2 separate regions of the Homo sapiens genome follow, and region 1 is linked to region 2. The links come from fine-mapping of genetic effects on gene expression. A gene starts in region 2. The other region holds a variant in brackets. All regions are shown on one strand. Distances are from middle to middle.

Region 1 (9,494 bases), 42 kb after region 2:
TGCACTCTAGCCTAGGTGACAGAACAATACCATGTCTAAAAAAAAAAAAAAAAAAAAAAAAAGCAGTGGTAAATGTTACAACAAGAGTGTTTTAAATAACTAATGGGGCCAGGCGTGGTGGGTCACATCTATAATTTCAGCACTTTGGGAGGCTGAGGCAGGAGGATTGCTTGAGCCTCAGGAGTTCAAGACCAGCCTGGGCAACATAGTGAGATCCTGTCTCCACAAAAATAAAAATTTAAAAAATTAACCCGATATGATGGCACACACCTATGTTCTTAGCTACCTGGGAGGCTGAGGTGGCAAAGTTACTTGAGTCCAGGAGGTTGAGGCTGCAGTGAGCTGTGATTGTGCCACTGCACTCCAACTTGGGCAGTAGAATGAGGCCTTTTCTCAAAAAAGGAGAAAAAAAGTAATATTTAAATCATTTATTGATGATAATTTAACACTTTCATTAGGAATAGTGCTGAGCCTGCTGCTGTAATTGTGGAGAAGCCACTGAGTGTACCACCAGCCCAAGGACTTTCCATTCCAGTGATTGGCGCAAGTAGGTATCTAAACTTGTATATATTAATAATTATATTTACAAAAAATTAGCTAGGCATGGTGGCACACGCCTGTAGTCCTAGCTACTGGGGAGGCTAAGGTGGGAGGGTCACCTGAGCCTGGGAAGTCAAGGCTGCAGTGAGCTGTGATCAAGCCACTGCACTGCAGCCTGGGTGATGGGAATGAGAGACCCTGTCTCAAGGAAAAAAAAATTACATAAATGTTTAATTATTAAAATCCTTTTTTTCCTTTTCAGAAGTTGACTCTACAGTAAAAACTGTATCACCCCCCACTGTGTGTACCATTCCTACCGTAGTAGGACGAAATGTCATTCCTAGAATCACAACACCTCACAACCCTGCCCAGGGACAACCGCATCTGAATGGAATGTCAAATATAACTAAGACTGTTACACCTAAGAGATCCCATTCCCCATCCATAGATGGGACTCCTAAGAGGTTGAAAGACGTAGAAAAGGTAAAGTTACAACTTTAGTGGTAATTCAGTAGTTGATATTTTTTATAGTTAATACTAAAGAAACAATTTTCCATAGCTGTTGGTGTTCTGTTAGGAGTTGGCTGAAAAGAATATTTACCCAAATCTTAAAGAAACAATATTAATTGCTCATCCTAAATTGAAATTACTAATACGTCTGAAAATTTGAATGATTGGTCTGAGTTTCTCCTTGATTTACAGAAGTCATTACTGATAACAAAATCTCATTTCTTGTGTGTTGATATGCCCTGCTTCCAGTAGGTGGTGGTAAAACTATATTTGTTAGAATCTGAATTGATTTAACCAAAAAGATCACCCAAACTGTAGAAATTAACGGTGGCAGTTGAATTCAATCTAATTTAAATTATCTTCTCTTACCAATCCATGTTTATAGTAATTTTTATAATAGTGTAACCAATAACTAGTTTTCCAGTTTATATAGATTTATATGGGTTTTTGTAGGTACATAATAGCAATCTATTTCAATGTTTATATTTTAGTTTATTCGACTTGAATCAACATTTAAGGACCCCCGCACTGCTGAAGAAAGAAAAAGAAAATCAGTGGTAAATATATTAATAGTGTGCTTCAGAATATTTATTGTAAAGCGCCATGTATCAGGAAAAGTGCCATATTAGAAAGTAGGTCAGATTAGATTTATTTTCAGGTTTTCGTTAGGTTTTATTTTAAGTAGAAATAAGTGTTTGCATATAGGAAAGTTAGTTTTCACTTGTGTTGATTCTTCTGTTTTTAGGATGCCATTGGAGGAGAATCTATGCCTATTCCAACTATTGATACATCACGCAAAAAGGTAACAAGATAGTCTTGTTCATAGGTACAGTACATAGGTAAAAACTCATAGGTAATCTACAAGTACAAAAGGCTTATTAAGAGCCTAGCACTGGGAAAAAGTAAGATTTTGTCCCTGTCCCCAAGGACTAGCAGTGTAGTTGGGGTTGGAGATAGCAAGTATATAGTTCTGAATGTATGTACCTCAAAAGTCTAAAAAAGAGGCAGTAGTTTAAGACAACTTTATTATCTATTTAGATTATGTTCACCCTTTGTTTTTTATCTTTAAAGAAGCAGTTGGATGCTCAGCACATTAATTTCTTACCAAGCACCTGGAGGTATATCTCTGTTGTGTACTATTGCTTACTGCCAAAACATAGGTTTGATAATTAGGAACCATATGTATTAATATTTTAGAGGAACCAAATGTAGTGGTATATATAGTAAGTACCTTTAAAACATGAGCTAAACGCCCCTAAATTGTAATTTAAATGTTTATTATTTGAAGAATTACTTTTATAACTAAAAATGTGTGTAGTATTAAGTGTGGTATGCTAAAAAGCAAGTACTCAAAAACCAGCCTTGTGTAAATAGAGAAAAACCTTCTCTGAGAGTTTATAATGAACAGAATGGCTTATTTATAATAATGATAAATAATTATAAATATATATGATGATAATTATAAATTATAATTTATAATAAAACAGAATGGCCATTAAATAGTAAAGTGCTTTTCATCAACTGTTACCCTGCCAGGTTCTCCAGGATGTAGTAGCTATTCTAAAGCAAAATAGTATACTCACAGGCTATTAGTTGTAGATTTTGAGCCTTTAACATAAGATTAAGTTACAAAAAATATGAACGTATAATTATGTGTCATGGTGGAAGAAAAAATTTTGAGATGGATATTGAAGTACAAAAGAGTGAAATGACATATCTGGATTTTTTAATATATCCAGTCTAAAGGGAAAGTGGGTACACCAAACAATTGCAGCAAAATTGTAATAATGTCTGAAACTTGGTTTTGGCATTTAAGTCCTTATTGCCCTGGTGTCTACTTCTTTGTATATCTGAAATTGCTCATAATTGTTTTAATGCATATGGATATGATACAGATACTGGCTTAGCCAAGGTAAAACAAGAGGAGAATTAAGCAGTCATCTCTTGACAAGAAACTATCCCCATTACAGAAGTCTAGATTTTGCCTTCCTTTTTTTTTTTTTTTTTTTTTTTTTTGGACATGGAGGCTCGCTCTGTAGCCCAGGTTGGAGTGCAATGGCGCGATCTTTTTGTATTTGTAGTGGCTAATTTTTGTATTTGTAGTGGAAAAGGGTTTCACCATATTGGCCAGGCTGCTCTTGAACTCCTGACCTCAAGTGATTCGCCCGCCTTGGCCTCCCAAAGTTCTGGGATTACAGGCGTGAACCACCATGCCCGGCCCTAGATTTTGCCTTCTTTATGTAATAATCTTTAATGCCCTCAGAATCCCTCAAACCGATGTCCCTGAATTTCATAACCATCAAAGTTATCTAGCCTAAGTACAAAGTTCAGTTTTCCTGAGAACTTAAGTATCTCACAGATTGAGTCAGTGGTCTTCTTCATGAATGTATTACAGAAACAAATTGAGGGACATAACTCTCAGATATTAAATTTTTCTCTACTGCACACACTCATTTTTCACTTCACACCCCAAGAGCTTCCTGTTTAGTCACCATGAACTTCCTTTTTTTTTTCTTTGCTTGACCTTAAGGACTGTGTTCTTTATGCATTTCTTGATCCAGGCATGGCAGTTCCTCTTTTCCTGTACATATTCACACTCCTGCCACTTCTACCCTTTCTCTTATCCCTCTGCTTTTCACCTCTGACTGTAAAAAGAAGTAGCAGTTCCGAAAGCAAGAGTTCCCTATGAACACGGAAGGAAATATTCATTGCATACTTGAGTGTTTAGGAGCTAGAGGGTTTGGGAGAAAAACTCCCCAAGTTTTGTGACTGACTTTCTAGCTGGGCCTTTATAATATATATGATGTGCTTTTCCTTTTTTGTTTCCTCTTTCTTTCTAATAGAGACTACCCAGTAAAGAACTACCAGATTCATCATCTCCAGTTCCAGCAAACAACATCCGTGTCATCAAAAATTCCATTCGACTGACCCTTAATCGGTAAAAGCAGTGCCTCCTCACTTAAGTGAACAAGCAATCATTTAGTGGCATAGATGCAGCCACTTGTTTTTTAAATAGAAGTGGCTGTCATACGTGAAATAAGGTGAAAGTGACAGCCTTCAGTCTAATAACCTTGAAGTGGTTTTTGAACTGTCAAACTTTGACCTGTAGATGCTGTAGCATTCTCTCACTGATTGCTACATACACTTCTCTGAGGATCACCTGCTGTCAAATTGCCATCTACAGTATTACAGCTTTGCATTTGGGGGTTTTACTGCCTTAACTTTCAATGCTTGTTATGGGAACCAGTTCTTAGCCACTTGGACACTGATAACAAGTCCTGAACTCCTTTTTTGTTTTGTTTTTTGTGTTTTT[C/T]TTTTTTTGTCTTATGTTGTAATCATTGTATAGAGCTAAAAAAATTGAAAACAAACAAAAAAATTGTCTTGTATTTTCCAAATGTTAATACATTTACTTTAGCATTGAAGCCACTTTGAAACCTGAGATAAATGAATGTGAGGTATCTTTTCTGCTTTCCTCATTTGTGTAGATGTACTGTCTGTTCTGTTGATTTAAATTATTTTTTTCCAGATTGGCACATGAAATATTTAAACTTTTTTGTGTGCCTTTCTGTCCAAATGTTGCATAGTTACCAGGGAAGATTAGTCCAGTGATTACATAAGAGTTGGGCACCATAAATTCTCTATATTTTGCCTCCCATGGAGGCCTTTGAAATGCATCTTTATTAAAAATCAAAATATAACCAGGATACTGAAAGTCAGTATATGAATGGTAAAATTGTTACATATCCTATTTCATGCCATTCTTGTTAGTTGACTGGTATTTTTTACTGAGGAGCAACTCATTCCAGCATCAACAATAAGATAACCTTTAAGTATGGCACACTTGTATTTTTGAGGTGTAAAATTAACTTGGCATGATAATTCCTGATCATTATTTACCCCACAACTTCAAATAGTTTCTTCACGGACTAGGCATGCAGAAATAAGCAGTGGATTTTATTGAAACCTAAAGGCATTTTGAATGACATTGTTACCAACCATTAATTGGCTCAGGACCTTTGTAATTTTTATTTAACTATATGAGTTGTCTTTTTTTACGCTGCTTTTTTCAATGCATTTCTTAATATTTTTTAAGTTTCATGAATGCATGCTCAGTTTATTAAAATCCATAACCATGTAATTCTTGTAATATGTTGATTCAGTGTTTTGTAAATGAAGTCGTATGTATTTTCAGAGTATTTTTGTATGTACTGTAAGATACCATCTTTTCAAAGAGAAACGTTTAAAACCTTTATTGTCTCTCCTTAGTCTAATTTTTTAAATATGGATTATGCTTGAATTACTATATTTAAAATGAAAATGTATAGATTACACAGCCAGGAATGCTAGTATCTACCACCTTCTTTAGATTTCACTCAGCATTTAGTAGGTCCAGTAGGAAAAACCCAAAATGGTACATTGAGTAGTGTGGGGAAGACACCTCGTGTATTATAGGACTCACGGGATGCCATCTAGCAAGTGGAGAAATAGCAGTCCATTTTCTCTTGCAAGCCCTTTACCATTGAGTTGAAATTCTTGAATTGCCAGAGAGCCGTATCCTCCAGGTCCCACTCCTGTTCATTGCCCCTTAGGTCTCCAAAATGTAAATTCTAATGTTTACCTTGTACCATGGAAAACATGAAAAGAGTCTTAGAAGTAAAGAACAACAAGGAAAAAAATGTTTGTTCTATTATTCCCTTTTTATATAGCAGCAAAAGATAAGAATAAAATCACATAACCAAGTTGAAGCTTCCTTGGCAAAGCTGTTGTCTTAGCTGACTCTTTCCCTTTATTCAGATGTTTTGGGATTGTTCTACAAATAGTCTATTTGAGCAAAAATGAATGATTATGAAAGAACCGAAGAATTATCACCTGACTTCAACTTTTGAAAGCTTTAGTAAGGAATTTGATTAAATTTTATATACTGGATGTGTATGCATTTCTGCATTTCATATCTTTTGCTTTTAAATCAGCCTTCAAAGTATCTTTAGGAATTCCTTCTGTATCCATGTTTACCCCATTATGTAAATAGATCTTTGGAGTGACTAGTGGAGTTTTTCTTTAATAAGGAAGCAACAAGTCTAACCTTGTACTATAGGATAGGCATTTATTTTAGATTAAGGAGCCCATTCAACATGTCAATGAGTCAACATTAGAGTCCTCAAAGATAGCATTCTTCAACCTGTTTGGTAACTGAGGAGTTGATAAAATACTTTTGAGATGGTGGGGTTTGTCAGAAATAAAATATTTTCTATCCTGACCAGTAGGTAGAACTTTGAGTACATTTCGTTAACTTGGTGGGAAGCTTCCATTGTACTAGTTCCAAGTAAAAAAGGAGAAAGTATGATCTGGGATTTTGTGTTATGATGAGAGGCACTAAGTACATGTGTTTGTTTTGTTTTGTTTTGTTTTGTTTTGTTTTGTTTGAGACAGAGTTTTGCTCTTGTTGCCCAGGCTGGAGTGCAGTAGCCCAATCTCGGCTCACTGCAACCTTCACCTCCCGAGTTCAAGCTATTCTCTTGCCTCAGCCTCCCAAGTAGCTGGGATTACAGGCACCCACCACCTCGCCCAGCTAATTTTTGTATTTTTAGTACAGACAGCGTTTCACCATGTTGGCCAGGCTGGTCTCGAACTTGTGACCTCAGGTGATCCACCTGCCTCGGCGTCCCAAAGTGCTGGGATTACAGGCGTGAACCACCGCACCCGGCCGTGTTTGTTTTCAAGTGTGAAAAAATACCTAGAAGTATATTTTATGAAGTCAAATAATCTGTTCTTCAGTATATAGACACATGTTCATTTTCACAAGGGCATTACATTTTAATTTGCTCATTTTTCAGTAGCTCTGGAGAATATGTATGAAAGGAAAACAATTACCTGCTAGCTTAAACCTTAGGGACTTAACCAATTCAAGATAGAGGTACATGGCTTAAAACTTTGTAAAACTGGGACAGGAGAATTATTATTTTTTTATTTTTTATTTTTTTATGAAGACAAGAGTTTCACTCTGTCACCCAGTCTGGAGCACAGTGGCATGATCTCACCTCACTGCAACCTCTGCCTCCCGGGTTCAAGTGATTCTCTTGCCTCAGCCTCCCAAGTAGCTGGAATTACAGGCCTGTGCCATGCCCAGCTAATTTTCGTATTTTCAGTAGAAATGGGATTTCACCATGTTGGCCAGGGTGGTCTTGAACTCCTCACCTCAAGTGATCTGGCTGCTTCGGCCACCCTAAGTGCTGGGATTACAGGCATAAGCTACTGTGCCCAGCCAGGAGAATGAATTTTAAAAATCTATGTTAGTGTTTAAAATGAGTGCTTTGTTTTAAAGCAGCAATTTAGTAGCATTATTAAAATGCTTACTTCACTATAGTAGCAATTAGGTAAAGATGGGCAATATCAAAATGGGCTAAACTTATTTTCCACTATGTTCCACACCTTTGAAATAGGAATTCCTAACTTGAGAATCATGAACCCTTAGGGAATCCTTTATAATTGTGTATAAGAAGTTCTAGTTTACATGCATTTTTCTTGGGGAAAGTGCATAGTTTAGATCAGCTTCTCGAAGTGGCAAAAGTATGGGAGTTAGGGTTAGGAACCACCAGGATTGAATAATCCTGGAATATTATATAATTTTCTACTTTTGATTTTGCTGTGGTATATTTCTGAAAATGTGCTGTGGCTCCTAACTAGTAAAATGGGCTGGTGAGGGACTCTGGAATTCTGAATTTCTAAGTTTATAACCTAAAATGAAACTGTAAAGTCCTCGGTATTTAGAAAAATGCTTAATCTCAGATTTACAGATGGCCTCATGATAACTTAGATTCGTTAACAGGGTCAAACTTTAGTTCAACAAATTTCAACCCAATATTATCACAGTACAATAGCTTAGAATGATCATTAGAAATGGTAGAAAATAGAATAAATCATTAAAGATCCCAAAATGTTGAGTTCTGTAGCATGAAAACTCTCTTGCTCCTCCATGTTTGTAGTTCAGGCCAGAACAAACTAAACAGACCAATAAATATAAAAGTGATAGTTTAGGGAAAAAAAAAAACTTTGTATAAATAAAATTGTATGTGTGTTCAAATAACTACCTATTAAATCATCCAAAGCTTAGAATTTAAATTGGTCATAGTAGCAAATAGTGCAGATGATGGAAGAAAACCAGTCTCAATAATGGTTTTTTTTTTCCAATTGCATAAGGTCACGTCATCCCCCAAATTGTCTATTTTTTCTTTTCTTTTTTTTTAAGATGGAGTCTCGCTCCGTCACCCAGGCTGGAATGCAGTGGCGCAATCTTGGCTCATTGCAACCTCCACCTCCCAGGTGCAAGCGATTCTCCTACCTCAGCCTCCCAAGTAGCTGGGACTACAGGCGCCCGCCACCATGTGGGCCTGGCTAATTTTTGTAGAGATGGGGTTTCAACATGTTGGCCAGGCTGGTCTCAAACTCCTGACCTCCAGTGATGCACCCGCCTCGGCCTCCCAAAGTTCTGGGATTACAGGCGTGAGCCACCGTGCCCAGCCCCTATTTTTTCTGAAATAATTTTTCGGATATACTTTTATATTTGAAATTAGTTGAACATAAGATGATCATCAAGCTTGCTATAAGTTTTAAGCTATTGCTACATTTGAACAAAGACCCACGTACTTATCTTAGAAAGTACTTAGGATATCTTTGAGATTAATGGTGCTACATCACTCTACAGTACTATGTAAAATGAATGGAGCTGCTGTTCCTTTCTAGCTAGCTGTTTGTGTAGTTCATATTAATTTACCCTGCCTTTTATTTGGATTGTCTGATTTCTTAGTTGTACACATGAACCTCATTATTTGCCTGGAATAAGTAATCAAATAAAATTGCTTTGATAAATAGGTGATGATTGAGTGATGTTATTTGGGACTAACTCAAAAGTACCAGAAGTCTTAACTTTTCAGTGACAACCAATTTTGTCATTTACCACTCAGACTCTTTTTGGTAGATAATGGTATCTACTACCCACTTAGTATGAATGCAAAGCTCAGACCTAATGTGCATCACACAGAATCATTTATTAAACGTTTATCAGCAAGCGGTGGCACAACAGTTTATACAGTCTGCTCTATAACCTTAATGGAGTGTCCCAGCTTTCTGTCCCTTTTGGTGGTCTGACCACCCTTTCATGAAAAGGCCACTTGAGGTGTCTATGTCAAGCACTAGGGGCAAAATTCTGTCACCCTTCTGATCAGGATCAGGCAATCAGTCCTCCGTACTAATAATGGCTGGACACAGGATCAAGCTGTGGGTACTATGCATACAAGTACAGGTTACAGGGCTCGTTACATTCTTAAACCTCTTGTAAGAATGGACAGTGACTGGTTTTTAGCCAATCCATGTGCTAGTGCTGAATTCACAAATAAGAGCTTGTGTCTGCGTCGTTAGTATTACTAGCAAGCTGTTCATGTCACCAA
Region 2 (9,494 bases):
CTCTCGAGCTCAAGCAATTCTCCTGCCTCAGCCTCCCAAGTAGCTGGGATTACAGGCACCTGCCACCACGCCCAGCTAATTAAAAAATACTTTTAAGGAAAAAAAAGCCATTTCAGAGACCCAACAACCAAATGCAATCATACTTCTTGATTGGATCACACTATAAACAAGCTTGGTGCAAAAGATATTTGGGCAACAAGTGGAAATACTTGAGTGTATTAATATTATTATGGTTGTACAGGAAAGTGTTCTCATTAGATATGCATATCAAAATATTTAGGAGTAAAATTTTATGTGTTTACTTAAAAAGATTTCACTGAAAAATGTGTGAAACATGACCAAATGCTAAAAAAATTCTACATGATGGGTATATGGTGTTAATTATATTATTCTCTCTACTTTTTCTGTATATTTATAGTTTTTTTATAAGCATAAAAACTTTTTTTTTAAATAGAGTTGTGGTTTTGCAGTTGTCCAGGCTGGTCTCAACTCCTGAGCTTAAGGGATCCTCCTGCCTTAGTCTCCTAAAGTACTGGGATTGCAACCATAAGCCACCACAACCAGCCAAATTAAAAAGTTGTTTTTTGGGTTTTTTTGTTTGTTTGTTTTTGAGACGAAGTTTCACTCTTGTTGCCCTGGCTGGAATGCGATGGCGAGATCTCGGCTCACCGCAACCTCCGCCTCCTGGGTTCAAGCCATTCTCCAGCCTCGGCCTCCAGAGTAGCTGAGATTACAGGCACCCACCACCACACCCAGCTAATTTTTTTGTATTTTTAGTAGAGACGGGGTTTCACCATGTTGGCCAGGCTGGTCTCGAACTCCTGACCTCAAGTGATCAACCCACCTCGGCCTCCCAAAGTGCTGGGATTGCAGGTGTGAGCCACTGTACCTGGCCAAAAGTTGCTTTTATGGTTGGTTTTTTGTTTTTTGTTTTGTTTTGGTTTGGTTTTTTTTTTGAGACAGTATCCCTCTGTTACCCAGGCTGGAGTGTACTGGCTCACTGCAACTTCCACTTCCGGGTTCACTCAATTCTTGTGCCTCAGCCTCCCAACTGGCTGGGATTACAGACGTGCACTACCATGACCAGCTAATTTTTGTATTTTTAGTAGAGGTCAGGTTTCACCCTGTTGGCCAGGATGGTCTGGAACTCCTGGCCTCAAGTGATTCACGCGCTTCAGCCTCTCAAAATGCTGGGATTACAGGCCGGAGCCACCACGTGGAGCCACCATATCCAGCCATAAAAAAAAAAAAAAAAAGATATTTGGCCAGGTGCAGTGGCTCATGCGTGTAATCCTAGCACTTTGGGAGGCCAAGGAGGGTGGATCACATGAGGTCAGGAGTTTGAGACCAGCCTGGTCAACATGGCAAAACCCCGTCTCTACTAAAAATACAAAAACTTAGCCCAGCGTGGCAGTGGGCACCTGTAATCCCAGCTAGTCGGGAGGCTAAGGCAGGAGAATCGCTTGAACCCAGGGGACGGAGGTTGCAATGAGCCAAGATCGCGCCATTGCACTCCAGCCTGGGCAACAAGAACGAAACTCTGTCTCAAAATAATAATAATAATAATAATAATACCCAGTATTTGTGAATGTTTGAGAAAACAGATCATCACATACATATTGGAGCATATACTGGTATAAACTTCTAAGAGGACAATTTCAAGTATATAAATTTTATTTTACAATATACATGTCAGCGGGGCGAGGTAGCTCGCGCCTGTAATCCCAGCACTTTAAGAGGCCTAGGCGGATACATCACTTGAGGAAAGGAGTTTGAGACCAACCTAGCTAACATGGTGAAACTCCATCTCTACTAAAAATACAAAAATTAGCCAGGTATGGTAGCGCGCACCTGTAATCCCAGCCACTGGGGAGGCTGAGGCAGGAGAATGGCTTCAACCCAGGAGATGGACATTGCAGTGAGCCAAGATCACAGCACTGCACTCCAGCTTGGGCAACAGAGGGAGAGTCTGTCTCAAAAATAAAATACAGGCCGGGCACGGTGGCTCACGCCTGTAATCTCAGCACTTTGGGAGGCCGAGGCAGGCGGATCACCTGAGGTCAGGAGTTCAAGACCAGCCTGGCCAACATGGCAAAATGCTGTCTCTACTAAAAATACAAAAATTAGCTGGGCATAGTGGCGGGCACCTGTAAACCCAGCTACTCAGGAGGCTGAGGCAGGGGAATCACTCGAAACCGGAAGGTGGAGGTTGCAGTGAGCTGAGATCACATCACTGCACTCCAGCCTGGGCAAGAGATGGAAAGGAGGGACAGACGTCCGCTCTTTTTTTTTATGCGCATGGGTTAGTTTTGTCATTTGAAAATTTTTAACTTAACAAATACAGTTACAATATACACTGCAAATAAGAAAAATGTCCTTATTGAAATTGGGGTTGGGAAAAATACAGTATCCTTATTGAGATGGGGGTTAGGGACTGTCATTAAATCCCAGGTAGATTAACAAAGACAGGAAAATGGGAAGAAAAGCAATTGATTAAAACACCGTGGCCGGGCATGGTGGCTCACGCCTGTAATCCCAGCACTTTGGGAGGCTGAGGCTGGCGGATCACGAGGTCAGGAGTTCAAGACTAGCCTGACCAATATGGTGAAACCCTGTCTGTACTAAAAATACAAAAATTAGGCTGGAAGCGGTGGCTCACGCCTGTAATCCCAGCACTTTGGGAGGCTGAGATGTGCGGCCAACATGGTGAAAGTCCATCTCTAAAATACAAAAAATTAGCCAGGCGTGGTGGCGCACGCCTGTAGTCCCAGCTACTCGGGAGGCTGAGACAGGAGAATCATTTGAACCCAGGAGGCAGAGGATGCAGTGAGCCAAGATCATGCCACTGTGCTGCAGCCTAGGTGACAGAGCAAGACTCCATCTCAAAAATAAATAAATAAATAAATAATAAAACACTGCTTGGCTGGGTGTGGTGGCTCACATCTGTAATCCTAGCACTTTGGGAAGCCGAGGTGGGCGGATTACCTGATGTCAGGAGTTTGAGACTAGCTGGCCCACATGGTGAAACCCCGTCTGTACTAAAAATACAAAAATATAGCTGGACGTGGTGGTGCATGCCTGTAATCCCACCTACTCAGGAGGCTGAGCAGAGATCACGCCACTGCACCCCAGCCTGGGCAACAGAGCGAGACTCCATCTCAAAAAAACCTCTGCCTCTCGGGTTCACGCAATTCTCCTGCCTCACCCTGCTGAGTAGCCGGGATCACAGGCGCACCACGCACCCAGCTAGTTTTTCTATTTTTAGTAGAGATGGGGTTTCACCATGTTGGCCAGGCTGGTCTCGAACTCCTGACCTCAAGTGATCCACCCGCCTCAGCCTCCCAAAATGTTAGGATTACAGGTGTGATCCACCACACCAGGCCACGTCAGGTTTTTGTTGTTGCTTTTAAGTAGAGATGGGTTTTTGCCATGTTGGCCAGGCTGGTCTTAATAGAACTCATGGCCTCAAGTGATCCACCAGCCTTGGCGTCACAAAGCACTGGGATTGCAGGCAAGAGCCACTGCACCTTGCTCAGGTTTTCAAAAATATGTTTTGTAGTTTTTATTTATTTATTTATTTATTTATTTTTTTGAGACAGGGTCTCCTTCTATCACTCTGGCTGGAATGCAGTGGTGCCATCCTGGTTTCCTGCAGCCTCCACGTCCTGGACTCAAAGAGATCCTCCCACCCCAGCCTCCTGAGTAGCTGGGACTACAGGCATGGGCCACCATGCCCAGCTAATTTTTTTAAAACTTTTTGTAGTGACAGGGTCTCACTATGTTGCCCAGGCTGTTCTCGAACTCCTGGCCTCAAGCAATTCTCCCACCTTGGCCTCCCAAAGTGCTGGGATTACAGGTGTGAGCCACTGTATCTTGCCTCAATAAATATTTTTTAATGAATTAATCAGCAAGTAATCTCCTCTATTTACTGTGACTCTGAGTTATGTTCAAGAGCAAGCAGTTCTTGACTTCCTTTTCTTTGTAATGATTTAGTGCTTGAAATTACTTCTACCTTTCAGCATTTTAAAATTGGTTATTATTTTCTCATTTTCATCCCCACACTCACATCGAACATGATTTCCACTATTTAAAAGTGTAAGATTTTTGTTTCAGCCTGGGATTTATCCTATTGCAAACTGCTAGCTACTATTTTCAACCTCTGTCAGCTAAATGCCAGAATGTCACTAATCAAAGGTGGTACTTAGGGGTGAAGTGAACAGTTAAGCCTCCAATTTACAAGCTTGTTTTTCCCTGGGATACTTGTGTGAAAGTCGTATGTTCCTGGGTGTGACCCTTTCGAGACAAAATCTCAACTGGTGAGTTAATTATGTATAACTATAATTAAATCAAAGATGTAGGATAACGGAGGCGTTGAAATAGTTTTTGCTAGGCAAGGGTGTGACCTTTTTAAAAAATGTATGATATATGCTGCCATTCGAGAGGCAAGGAAAACATATCTCCAAATTTCCTTCCAAGCGGTCTACCGGCATTGACAGTACCGCGGACAAAGGAGAGTACCAAATAAATACTCCTTCGAACCAACGGTATACTGAGAGCCCTGAGCTTGTGGGCGGGGCCCCGGAGCCTCCCGGGACCTAAAGGCAGAGGGGGCGTGGCTGAGGGTGGTCCAGACCTCCAGGGGCGGGGCTGAGACCTGCGAGAGGCAGGCTGGGAAGCGGCGCCATATTGGCGTCGGCCGCGCTGTATTGTCATAAATAGAGCCGGTTTTGTGGTGTTTTCACTACTCGGTTGGATGCCTCAGCCATAGTAAGTGGGAAAGTGAGCGAGCAAGCGAGCTACTAGCGACCGGAGGAAAGTGAACAGGGGGAGAAGGGAACAGCAAGAACAGGACTCCAGAGCGATAAACACTCGCTGGAGAGGGAGACGCAGGAAGCGATGAAAGAGATGTCTGCGTAAGTGGTGGGGGGCGGCGGTTGGGGTGAGGCGGGTAGGGGTGAGCTGAGGTGGTCCGACTGTGTCCTTGTTTCCGTTCCCTGTCCCTTGCGCCCTGCACGCAGCTCGCCGGGATGGTCTCCTTCCCGGCTCCCGGCCGGTCCGCAAGGGCACCTCCCCTAAACCCGGCGGCTCACCTGGCCACCCCTGCACGGACTCGGGGACTCCGGGAGTCCCCAGCTGTCCCGCCTCCGAGGACGCCCTCAGAAAAGGATGAGGAGGGAAAGAGGTGCCTGTGTCCGTAGGGAGAAATTGTCGGTCACTCGCCTGCCCCCAGCACTGTCTGAGCCCGTCTGCTCCTGTCTGCATTGGCGCAAATACCATCCCCCTGCCTCCCCCTCCTCCCTTCCCGACCGGCTGTCTCCAGGTCTTCAGGAGTGAAAGACCTATCGCAGCCCAAGGGTTTCTCTTTCATATGAGGCTACAGTCTTTTCACCGCCGTCCCCACCCTCTCCCTCACCCCCTGCTTCCCCACCTACCCACAACATCTACCGGTCTGTACCTCTTGTTCACACTTTGATAAGTCAGAAACAGTTCCCGTACTTGGCAAGATTTTGTTGTAGCTTCTTCCATTTTGGTCTATTAGGAAATAATTTAAACATGCAGAAAAATGTAGAGAATAACATAAGCATCATTTGTGGAGCCACCACCCATTTCTCCCAAAACGTAACTGTACACACATACACGTACATGCACACACGCACACACACGGTGTGTATATACGTATCTGTGTATTTATTTTAAAAAGAAATCAAGCATTCCAGATACATCTGAAGGACTCTCCTACCTCCTTCTCTGGTCCCAATCATCTCTTGCTCCAGATGTCTCCACAGTCTTGAATTTGATGTTTATCGTTGCTGCCTGTTTTTTATTTTACTTCTTTTTTTTCCGCCCTCGAATCATGGGAGCTGCATGTTTTTTAATGCTATTACTACATACACATGTGTTCATAATAACTGGCATAGTTCTAGTTGTTTTTAAACTTTATATAACTCGTATCACACTTGGAATTCTGTAACTTCTTTAGCACAACATAGTATCTCTGAGCTTTGTTCATGTTAGTATTTTAGTTGTAATTAATTAATATTAATTATTGTATTGTATTCTATTGTAGGAAAACACCCTAATTTAATTCTTTTCCTGTTAGTGACTATTTTATTTCTAAGTTTTTAATGTTACAATGTGACAGTGAACGTTCTTTTAGGTGTCTCTTTGTACGCTTGTAACTAGAATTTCTCTAGGTTGTTTGCCTGTAAGTGAAATTGATGGTTTGAAGGGAATGTGGGATTCTGTTGTTTACTTTCCCCTCCCCTCTAGATGGGGGAAGTTCAGAACCTGGATTTGGAATTTTAGGGCCAGTAGGCTAGTTGGCCAACTTTGTCAGCATACAGGTAAAAAAGTGAGGCCCGTCATCATGGTGTCAGAGCTGAAGTAGTTAGAGAGGAGAGAATGGAGTAGTGGAAAGAGGTTTTGGAGTTCAGATTCTGGCTTGTCCTCTCTTTGACTTTCAGGTACTTATCTGTAAAATGGCACTTATTCAATACCCCTTAGGATTATTGCGATTGAGTGATACTATATAGATATGTAGATAATTACTCTGTCCTATTCACTTACCGTATATATTTACATATGTATTACACAAACAATACCAAAACACTGCTCTAGCTTTCTCAGAGGTAAAAAGCCAAATCTTTAAAAAGAAATTACCACTTGAAATAACTAATTGAAGTTTTGTTTGTTCTACAACAAAATAAATACAGAAGATAAATTAACCAGTATTTTGGTTTCTGGGGTTTTTTTTTTTTTTTTTTTTTTTGAGTCATTTTGGAAGGTATACAGGCTATTTTATCTTCCATTTGATTCTTTCTCCCTCTCTGCCTAATGAGATTTTTTTTTTTTTTTTTTTTTTGAGACGGAGTTTCGCTCTTGTTGCCCAGGCTGGAGTGTGGTGGCGCGATCTTGGTTCACTGCAACCTTCGTCTCCTGGGTTCAAGCGAATCTCCTGCCTCAGCCTCCCGAGTAGCCGGGATTACAGACGTCCGCCACCATGCCCAGCTAATTTTTTGTATTTTCAGTAGAGACGGGGTTTCACCATGTTGGCCAGGCTGATCTTGAACTTCTGACCTCAAGTAATCCACCTGCCTTGGCCTCCCAGAGTACTGGGATTACAGGCATGAGGCACCACGCCCGGCCTCTAATGAGATCTTTAGCTATTACAGCGTGTCTTACTCTGTGTACTTAGTAGTGGTAAGACAGTGTTTTGACCAGTTAGAATCCAAAAACAATTAAACAATCTCTATTGTATGTTATTTTTTACAGGGCTAATTTATTCAACTTGAAAGATTGTTTCTAATTTTGAGATTACATTCTTACTCTTGGTGTTAATGGCCCTTCATGGAAGCATGGTGAAGATAAATGGTAGTGTTGGTCGTTTAGTGTGTATGTTTTTACTTTCATAGCAAAATTAGAAGTTTTGCCAACCCCTGTTGGTCCCAGAATTTATTTTGAAGTTGATTAGTTTGTGTAAACTCAAAATCTCAGAACTTGAATTGGCTGAGCGCGGGGGCTCACGCCTGTGATCCCAGCACCGTGGGAGGCCGAGACTGTTGGATCACCTGAGGTCAGGAGTTCGAGACCAGCCTGGCAACATGGCGAAACTCCGTCTCTACTAAAAATACAAAAAGTAGCTGGGTGTGGTGGCACATGCCTGTAATCCCAGCTACTTGGGAGGCTGAGGTAGGAGAATTGCTTGAACCCAGGAGGCAGAGGTTGCAGTGAGCTGAGATCTCCCCAATGCACTCCAGCCTGGGAGACAGAGAGAGACTCCATCTCAAAAAAAAAAAGAAAAAAAAGTCTCAGAACTTCTGTTGTACTTTATTCAAGACCGTAGTTTCTTGATGGCTAAGATGTTTGGAGGGTGGCTCATGTATCTTCCAAAAGATTGCCAGTAGTATAAAGAATTTTATTTCAATGTGAAGATGGTATGGGTACCAGTCTAAAATGAAGAGAATAATTAACTAGAATCACAAAGTACTAGGACTGTAAACTCTGATTCAAGCAGAGGATGTTAACCTCGGTTTCCCAAGGACAAATCTAATTGTGATTTCTTTTTAAAAGCCAGATTATTTCACAAGGACCTTCTAATGGGATGTTTTCATTTCTTTCCTGGGGAAAAAAACCCATTGTTTTTACTAAAAGCTTTATTTCAAGTGGTTGACTGCTTTTCAAAGATTCTAGAATCTGGATGGCACTTGACTTAAGTCTGCAGGGTAGTGGAGGTGGCCCTGGCACAGATCCCAATCAAACTCTGGGTTTGAGCTGAGTGGTGTTGGTACAATTGTCTTGATGCCAACACATGCTGCGCTTGGCTTGAAAAAACATCCTAACCATGAAAGCTGCAGGCAGTATGAATAGCCCCTTCATAAACATAAACATAAAATACCCATTTTTCCTTTACAAGAAAGTGTCTGCCACTACTGTTATTACTAAGTAAACTTTTAAGGTAGCTAAATTAACATGAGTAGATTGAGAGATTCAGTGTATCAGTATGGTATATACTTTAAATTTTTTGTTTCATTTTTCTTATTTTCTTGAACAGAAACACCGTGCTGGACAGCCAGCGTCAACAAAAGCATTATGGAATTACCTCCCCAATTAGTTTGGCATCTCCTAAAGAAATTGATCATATTTACACACAGAAATTAATTGACGCCATGAAACCATTTGGAGTGTTTGAAGATGAGGAAGAATTGAACCACAGGTATGTCATTGAAAACCATAAAATATTTGACAGTGCATTATTTAATCATTAATTCTGCGAACATATTGAATACCTACTGTGTCTCTAGATACAGGTGCAGAAATGACAAAAAGAAAAATCTTGGCCCTCTTGGAGCTTACATTTTAGGTAGGGGTTAGAAGAAGAGATTTGTCATCAATAATATCAGTATGACACTCATGAGTAATATTACACATGATAAGTGCTACTGAGAAAAAGCTGAGGGGGTAGAGGTTTCAGGGAAAGCCTCATTGAGAAAGTTACATTTAAGGGAAAATTTAAAGATGAAGGAGGGAGCCATGTGTCTATCTGAGGGAAAAGTGTTCTAGGCAGAACTCTTGAAGTGGTGTATTTGAAGAGTGCATAGCAAGATACCCTGGGTGTCTGAGCAGTGAGGAAGCAGGAAAATATAGGCTTAATGAAAGCAAGGTGGGAAGGAGCTTGGAGGGCAAGAGCTCTTAGGACCTTGTAAGGTGTTGTCAAGGTTTGGTTTATTCTGAGTGAAATGAGAAGCTATTAGGGTTTTGAAAAGAAGATTGACATGATGACTTAAAAAAGTTTTAACAGTCACTCTGGCTGCTGTATTGAGAGTAATCTTAGGAGAAGTGCAAGGGCAGAGCAGAGAAACCAGTTAGCAAGCCATTATAATAGCCCTAGGAGGAAATGATGGTGGCTAGAACCTGGAGGATGGTCGTAGAGGTAATAAAAAGTAGAAATCTGGATATATTTTAAAGGTAGGGTTCTTAGGGTTTAATGACTGGAA

The links. PIP is the estimated chance that this variant, and not a neighbour inherited with it, causes the effect. A credible set is the group of variants that fine-mapping cannot tell apart.
Region 1: its variant is the best candidate, but not a certain one, in a credible set for the expression of PAPOLG in blood mononuclear cells (TOPMed, PIP 0.78).

What each region holds. Positions count from the first base shown.
Region 1 is chr2:60,793,169-60,802,662 of GRCh38, forward strand. PAPOLG (poly(A) polymerase gamma) reads left to right here. Exons shown (of 22, transcript NM_022894.4): 18 at 459-547; 19 at 803-1,023; 20 at 1,542-1,607; 21 at 1,796-1,852; 22 at 3,894-8,918. The coding sequence ends at 3,992. Among named protein-coding and RNA genes, the nearest start is that of PAPOLG, 42 kb to the left of the region's middle. The variant C/T (reference allele first, on the strand shown) is at 4,364.
Region 2 is chr2:60,751,583-60,761,076 of GRCh38, forward strand. PAPOLG (poly(A) polymerase gamma) reads left to right here and starts at 4,686. Exons shown (of 22, transcript NM_022894.4): 1 at 4,686-4,913; 2 at 8,552-8,713. The coding sequence starts at 4,897. RefSeq lists enhancers at 4,602-4,911, 7,546-8,045.